Homo sapiens: one gene and its partner. The protein of the gene in region 1 interacts with the protein of each later gene in a biochemical or structural test. Each region holds a gene or a part of one and is shown in the gene's direction. Other genes may lie near its edges. The genes, in order: CASKIN1 and CASK.

The links.
Region 2: the proteins of CASKIN1 (region 1) and CASK interact in a biophysical measurement, tested with the Homo sapiens proteins (2 studies listed by IntAct, with this or other methods).

What each region holds. Positions count from the first base shown.
Region 1 is NC_000016.10:2,179,517-2,183,328, reverse strand, and holds part of CASKIN1 (caskin-1), read left to right. Parts: intron 1-1,399; coding exon 1,400-1,538; intron 1,539-1,729; coding exon 1,730-3,736; intron 3,737-3,812.
Region 2 is NC_000023.11:41,528,419-41,532,230, reverse strand, and holds part of CASK (peripheral plasma membrane protein CASK), read left to right. Parts: intron 1-1,021; coding exon 1,022-1,224; intron 1,225-3,812. UniProt on the Homo sapiens protein: Multidomain scaffolding Mg(2+)-independent protein kinase that catalyzes the phosphotransfer from ATP to proteins such as NRXN1, and plays a role in synaptic transmembrane protein anchoring and ion channel trafficking.

The sequences.
Region 1 (3,812 bases):
CCAAGCACTGCCACTCACATGCAGACTGTAGGGGGCCATGCTTACGGCCTTTGCTCACAGGCACCCAGGTACGTGCCAGCCACACGCCTGGCAGGTGTGCATGGAACACCCTGCAGGCATCCACCAGCTTGTGTGCGTGCACACATGCTCCACCGCACGTGTGGCCCTCACCAATAGCTGACACCCCCATTCTCAGCGATACCTGCACACGCCATGGCCAATCGTCATTAACACGGAGGTGCGGCCGGGCGCGGTGGCTCACGCCTGTAATCCCAGCACTTTGGGAGGCCGAGGTAGGTGGATCACGAGGTCAAGAGATCGAGACCATCCTGGCTAACACGGTGAAACCCAGTCTCTACTAAAACCAAAAATTGGCCAGGCGTGGTGGCGGGTGCCTATAGTCCCAGCTACTTGGGAGTCTGAGGCAGGAGAATGGCATGAACCCGGGAGGCGGAGCTTGCAGTGAGCCGAGATTGCGCCACTGCACTCCAGCCTGGGCGACAGAGCGAGGCTCCGTCTCAAACAAAGCAAAACAACAGGGAGGTGCCTGTGCAGTGGGATGGGTTCCGGGCCTGAAGAAGGTGGGCCCAGGCCTAGCCCAACTGAAGCGGACTCTCTGGGCCTCACACTGAGCTCTGGGCTCCCAACGGGAGAGGCGATCGGTGGCTGTCAAAAGCCACCTGGCGCGTGGGTCTGCACTCACCCTGCCTTGCCTCACTCAATTGGTGGCTCGGGGATCCTCCTAGGGGTCAGGTCCGGGTCCCACGGGCCTTGCCGCGCACCTGGGGGTGGCTGAGTGTTCAAGAGCAGTTGCATGAGTGAATTCCAGCTGGAAGTGTGGACGCCTGAATGCCGCTCGGGGAGTGATCGGGTGTTTCTCGGTGCAGATTGCTGTGGGTGTTGGCACGTGTGTGTGTTGTGGCTGTGTGGCATGTGTGTGGCCCTGTGATGTGGGTGAGAGGTCAGAGTGTGAAACGGGATGGGGTGCTGGTGCCTGTGCACGGCTGGGAGCGCAGCGTGCAAATCATGTGCGTGTTCCTGTACCAGGTGTGGCCCCATGCGTCTGTGTCCATGACTCGGGTGTGTCTCCCCATGGTGCTGTACTCGTGGCTGCCTGGCCGGGTGGGAAAGTGCCTTCTTCTGCCCCCCCGACAAGGGTGTCCTGTGGATGTGGGCAGCCGTGCGTGTGTGCGCATGTGTGCGATATGCGGCATGCAGTGTCCGGTGCCTGAGCCGAGGCTCTGCCTACATTTCTGGTGCCAATACCTCGGCCTATCCGTTTGTCCTCCTGTCTGTCTGTGCCCTGCTGGCCCGGTGACCCTTCCTCCTCCAGCTCCAGGTAGATGGGCAGGGTGCGGGCAGCCAGCCCAGGTGGCTCCTCTGTGTGTCTGCTCTGTAGGCTAACCTGGCCGTGTGGCTGTCCATGATCGGCCTGGCCCAGTACTACAAGGTGTTGGTGGACAATGGCTACGAGAACATTGATTTCATCACCGACATCACCTGGGAGGACCTGCAGGAGATCGGCATCACCAAGCTGGGTGAGGCCCCAGCCCCAGCCCTCGTCCCCAGCCCAACCCTCAGCCCAAGCCCCAGCCACCAGCCACCAGCCCAGCCCCAGCCCCGCCCCAGCCCCAAGCTGGGCCCCAAGCCCAGCCCAGCCCCGCCCCTAGCCCGGCCCCTGCCCCTCCGCCTCCTGGTCCACCTGACCTGCCCCCTGCGCCCCACTCAGGGCACCAGAAGAAGCTGATGCTCGCTGTGAGGAAGCTGGCAGAGCTGCAGAAGGCTGAATACGCCAAGTATGAGGGGGGCCCCCTGCGCCGGAAGGCGCCCCAGTCTCTTGAAGTGATGGCCATCGAGTCGCCGCCCCCGCCTGAGCCCACACCGGCCGACTGCCAGTCCCCTAAAATGACCACCTTCCAGGACAGCGAGCTCAGTGACGAGCTGCAGGCTGCCATGACTGGCCCGGCTGAGGTGGGGCCCACCACTGAGAAGCCCTCCAGCCACCTGCCACCCACCCCGAGGGCCACCACGCGGCAGGACTCCAGCCTGGGTGGTCGGGCACGGCACATGAGCAGCTCGCAGGAGCTGCTGGGAGATGGGCCCCCTGGGCCCAGCAGCCCCATGTCTCGAAGCCAGGAGTACCTCCTGGATGAGGGCCCCGCCCCCGGCACCCCGCCCAGGGAGGCCCGGCCCGGCCGCCACGGCCACAGCATCAAGAGGGCCAGCGTGCCCCCCGTGCCTGGCAAGCCACGGCAGGTCCTCCCACCAGGCACTAGCCACTTCACGCCCCCCCAGACGCCCACCAAAACCCGACCAGGCTCTCCCCAGGCCCTTGGGGGACCTCATGGTCCAGCCCCAGCTACGGCCAAGGTGAAGCCCACCCCGCAGCTGCTGCCGCCGACAGAGCGCCCCATGTCACCCCGCTCCCTGCCTCAGTCACCGACGCACCGCGGCTTTGCCTACGTGCTGCCCCAGCCCGTGGAGGGCGAGGTGGGGCCGGCTGCCCCGGGGCCTGCGCCCCCACCCGTGCCGACGGCTGTGCCCACACTGTGCCTGCCCCCTGAGGCCGACGCGGAGCCGGGGCGGCCCAAGAAGCGGGCCCACAGCCTGAATCGCTATGCGGCGTCCGACAGCGAGCCGGAGCGGGACGAGCTGCTGGTGCCTGCGGCTGCCGGCCCCTATGCCACGGTCCAGCGGCGCGTGGGCCGCAGCCACTCAGTGAGGGCGCCCGCAGGTGCCGACAAGAACGTCAACCGCAGCCAGTCCTTTGCCGTGCGGCCCCGAAAGAAGGGGCCCCCGCCGCCCCCACCCAAGCGCTCCAGCTCGGCCCTGGCTAGTGCCAACCTGGCGGATGAGCCGGTGCCTGACGCCGAGCCTGAGGATGGCCTGCTGGGGGTCCGGGCACAGTGCCGGCGGGCCAGTGACCTGGCCGGCAGCGTGGACACGGGTAGTGCCGGCAGTGTGAAGAGCATCGCGGCCATGCTGGAGCTGTCCTCCATTGGGGGTGGGGGCCGGGCTGCCCGCAGGCCTCCTGAGGGCCACCCCACTCCCCGCCCTGCCAGCCCAGAGCCGGGCCGGGTGGCCACCGTGCTGGCCTCAGTGAAACACAAAGAGGCCATCGGGCCTGGCGGGGAGGTGGTGAACCGGCGCCGCACGCTCAGCGGGCCAGTCACCGGACTTCTGGCCACTGCCCGCCGGGGGCCTGGGGAGTCGGCAGACCCAGGCCCCTTTGTGGAGGATGGCACTGGCCGGCAGCGGCCTCGGGGTCCCTCCAAGGGCGAGGCGGGTGTCGAAGGCCCGCCCTTGGCCAAGGTGGAAGCCAGCGCCACACTCAAGAGGCGCATCCGGGCCAAGCAGAACCAGCAGGAGAACGTCAAGTTCATCCTGACCGAGTCTGACACGGTCAAGCGCAGGCCCAAGGCCAAGGAGCGGGAGGCCGGGCCTGAGCCACCACCGCCACTGTCCGTGTACCATAATGGCACTGGCACCGTGCGCCGCCGACCGGCCTCGGAGCAGGCTGGGCCTCCGGAGCTGCCTCCACCGCCCCCGCCTGCCGAACCCCCGCCCACCGACCTGGCGCACCTACCCCCATTGCCCCCGCCCGAGGGCGAAGCCCGGAAGCCGGCCAAGCCGCCTGTCTCTCCCAAGCCCGTCCTGACGCAGCCTGTGCCCAAGCTCCAGGGCTCGCCCACACCCACCTCCAAGAAGGTGCCGCTGCCAGGCCCTGGCAGCCCAGGTAGGCCAGCCAGGGTGGGGTGAAGGGGCAACAGGACCCTGCTCCACCTCCTTACTCGGTGGTCTGAGGGGTTTTC
Region 2 (3,812 bases), on another chromosome or scaffold:
GGTGCAGTGGCTCACACCTGTAATCCCAGCACTTTGGGAGACTGAGGCGGGCAGATCACCTGAGGTCAGGAGTTTGAGACCAGTCTGGCCAACATGGTGAAACCCCGTCTCTGTTGGAAATACAAAAAATAGCTGGGCATGGTGGTACACGCCTATAATCCCAGCTGCTCAGGAGGCTGAGGGCACAAGAATCTCTTGAACCCAGGAGGTGGAAGTTGCAGTGAGCTGAGATCGCACCACTGCACTCCAGCCTGGGCTACAGAGTGGGACTCTGTCTCCAAAATAAAAAAATAAAAATAAAAAAAGACAGTAGACCATGTTTGGCCCATAAGCCAGTTTGTCACCTCCTGATTTAGGTCTTCCATAATAATTATGGGTATGTCTGGCCACAGTCATTGTGTTTTCAGTGTAACGTGTCTTTTGCTGTATCCTAACATTCTCCTTTTGCAAGATGTTATAGAACATCACTTTTCAATAGAACTTTCTGTGACAATGACAGTACTTGATGTCTGTGCAGTCCAGTACAGTGGCCACTAACCATACGTGGTTATTGAATCCTTGAAATGCCACTAGTGAGACTGAGAAACTAAAATTTGAATTTTATTTAATTTTGGCTTATTTAAATTTAACCATATGCAGTTTTCCATTTTTTTATTCTCCTTTTTTCCTTCTACACAAGACCCAACTGCATTAAGGCATACAGTGAGTTATATTAATCTTGGGTCATTTCACGTCTTCCTCCTGTGGTGGTTCATGAAGGGATAAAATACATCTCACCTGAACACTGAAAGTTTCACCAAACCAGACAATTCACTGGCTACTATGGTGTGATGCACACAGATAAATATGGTTTCTAGAATTTAGTTCTGCAAAGCCACTGGGGGTGAGAACAGGGGATATGAGATATACGCTAAAGAATCCACAGCTTTTAGGAAGAGACTGGGTTTGAGTAAATCTGTTGGGAGTGTAGTAAGCTCATCAGCTCAGCCTTTTAAACCTCTTGTGCCATGCGACTTTGCAGATACAACCAGACCTCCAAAGAAAGACGAAGAAAATGGAAAGAATTATTACTTTGTATCTCATGACCAAATGATGCAAGACATCTCTAATAACGAGTACTTGGAGTACGGCAGCCACGAGGATGCGATGTATGGGACAAAACTGGAGACCATCCGGAAGATCCACGAGCAGGGGCTGATTGCAATACTGGACGTGGAGCCTCAGGTAATGCCCAGCCTCCCCGAATGTCTGACATCCTGCCTGCATGCCAATAAGCACAGATTCTGAAATCAAAAATGCCATCAGAAAGTCACAGGTCACATAATAATTTCATAAACCACAGAAAAGTATCAGTAATGGAGGCGTTGGGGGTTCACAGTCTAGAATGCCAGCTGACTAATCGTTGGACTCAGTGCACACACCATGTATTTAAGAAGCAGAGATTATTCTCTTAAGAGGTTTATTATATGCAGAAGCTCAGTAAGGTTCCTGATTGTGTCTACGCCTGCCAGAAATCCTACGATCATCTGACCTCAGGATGAGGCTCTGGCACTTTGTTATCACAACAGCCACCTTCCCTCTCTGGGTACAGCTCACGCTGGACCATCAGAGCCTCTACCAGCACATTATGTTAATCTCCAGTGAGAAACTGATCCTGGGGCCTGGGTCTGAAACACAGCACTAGCTTTATGAAAGCAAGCATGAGTGAGCCCAGATGTCAGAGACAGCAGGGATGGAAACCCATGGTGGCTCTCAGCCTCTGCCATTTCCTTACCTGAGCACAATGCCTGACCCTGAGCAAAAACTAGGAGAGAGATAAAGACTTGGAAGAGGACTCAAAAGAGAGCCAGACACAGAGATGATGAAATGGTTTCTAGATATGTCTTGCAGTAGGAATTATTAAACTTGAAAAAGAGAAAGCTGAAGGCTTTACATCAAAAATGCTGACAAGCTGTTTTTTCATCTCTGAGTACAAACCAAGTAGATATGGGAGGCAAAGTATAGTAGGAAGGATTTGGGAGTTGTAGACATCAAGGTGGGTTATAGGAGAGGCTTGTGGGTGCCATGTGACTCCTGGGTCTGCCATTTCTAGGACTGATCTGTACCAAATCTCCTTTAACCCTTAGAAATAGAACCAGTATGCTACCTGCTGAAATAGTAGACCAGCTTCCCTCAAGCAGGCTGTGTTTCATCAGGAGGCTTACCTGGCTATCTTAGGCAGGGCGAATCCCTGTTCAAGGGCCACTGTATGAGACTTGGTCCCCTAACCATCCCTAAAGCAAGGACAGAACCTATATAGCCAGAGTCTGTGTGACCTGGGACCTGACAGCTCAGTTTCTGGGCTCCAGGATCCTAATTCGTGGCCAGTGGGTTCACCCATTTCCGTTTACAACACCTGATGGGGTTCTTGAACTTGGAACTTTGGAAACCACAAAAGGATCTGTTCAAGGGGCTAGGGAGGAAAGCAGCAGTAGGGTGAACACTGCCGTTTACTTAACAATTAACTTGGACCTATATAGAACTAAATATATGATGTGTACCACAGATTGATTTTTGTTTAACTACTAATCCCTCCTTACTAGGGATTGGAAAAATCTTCTGGCCAGGGGTGGCTAGAGGCAAAGTCTCAATCCTGGTCCTGGTCTTCGACATCCTCTCCTTGGGTTCCACACTGGTCTTCACCTGAACGTCGTTTTCTGCTGGTAGTAATGTCTCTAGCAGTATGCTGGCTGCAGGGCTCCTCAGACTCCCTCTGCATTACCTAAGTCCACTTTCGAGGGCTTTCTGCCTTACCTGCCTCCGCTGCTGCCGCCGCCACCGCCACTGCTGCTGCTGCCGCTGCTGCTGCTGCTCCACCCATAGCGTCCAGCTCTCCCTTTCTCCTTGCCCTTGCACAGCCATGCATTGCTCTGCACTGCTGAGTGGGAGACACTTCTCTCAGCCTCCTCAGGACACCCACAGCAGTTACTTTTACCCATTGCACTTGGCCCCAAAGCACCTCCTCACCCCGGCTGGGCACTCTCCTCTGCTCCCCTGAGTGCTGGATGAGCTCACCTGCACTCTTCTCTCCTGCTTCCTGGGTCCCTGCCTCTCAGAACTGTGATCTCTCAGATCCACCTAGCCCTGAGGGCCGGCCATAGGCATCCTGGCTGCCTGAGTCTCTTTGGGCCAGCGGCCCTGGGGATAGGGATTGCCCAGGTCCTGCTCCTCCTGTTGGTCTGGTTGACTACACTGGTCCCAGGCCCTCCTGCGCAGGCCAGCCTCATGCCAGTCCTGGTCTCACAATGACCATTGCATACCACAGTACAGCTGAGAATGCCCGCAGTCTGCACCGACTGGGCTTCACTCTCGGGCTTCTCTGCCCTCAGCCCAGTCTCTCCTCAGCTGGACAAGGCCTTCATCCTGCCTTCAGGATACCCGTGACCATGAACAACTTGCTTTCAGGCAGAGCCTCACTGCTCCAGGGAGGCTCTCTCCTTAGGACATTTTTCTCCATCCCCCTTTCCCACTCCAGCTTCTTAGATGACCCCTCTACTGTATCTTACAGACAATTTAATCCAACAAACTTGTATTAAGCCCTTATTATATGTCAAGCACAGGGTCAGGAGCTAAGAATACAATTCAGAAGACAAGATGGTGAGGATGAAATTCCTTCCTCATTGTACATCCAAAACTGTCCATAACAGAAGGGCCTTGTGGCATTTTTTAGAATCCTCTCACTTCTGCCAAACTACATGTGGACCATAGGAAAACCACCTAACACATGTCCAGCTCTTTTAGTACAGGTCTAATACTTTATGCCATCTTATTTC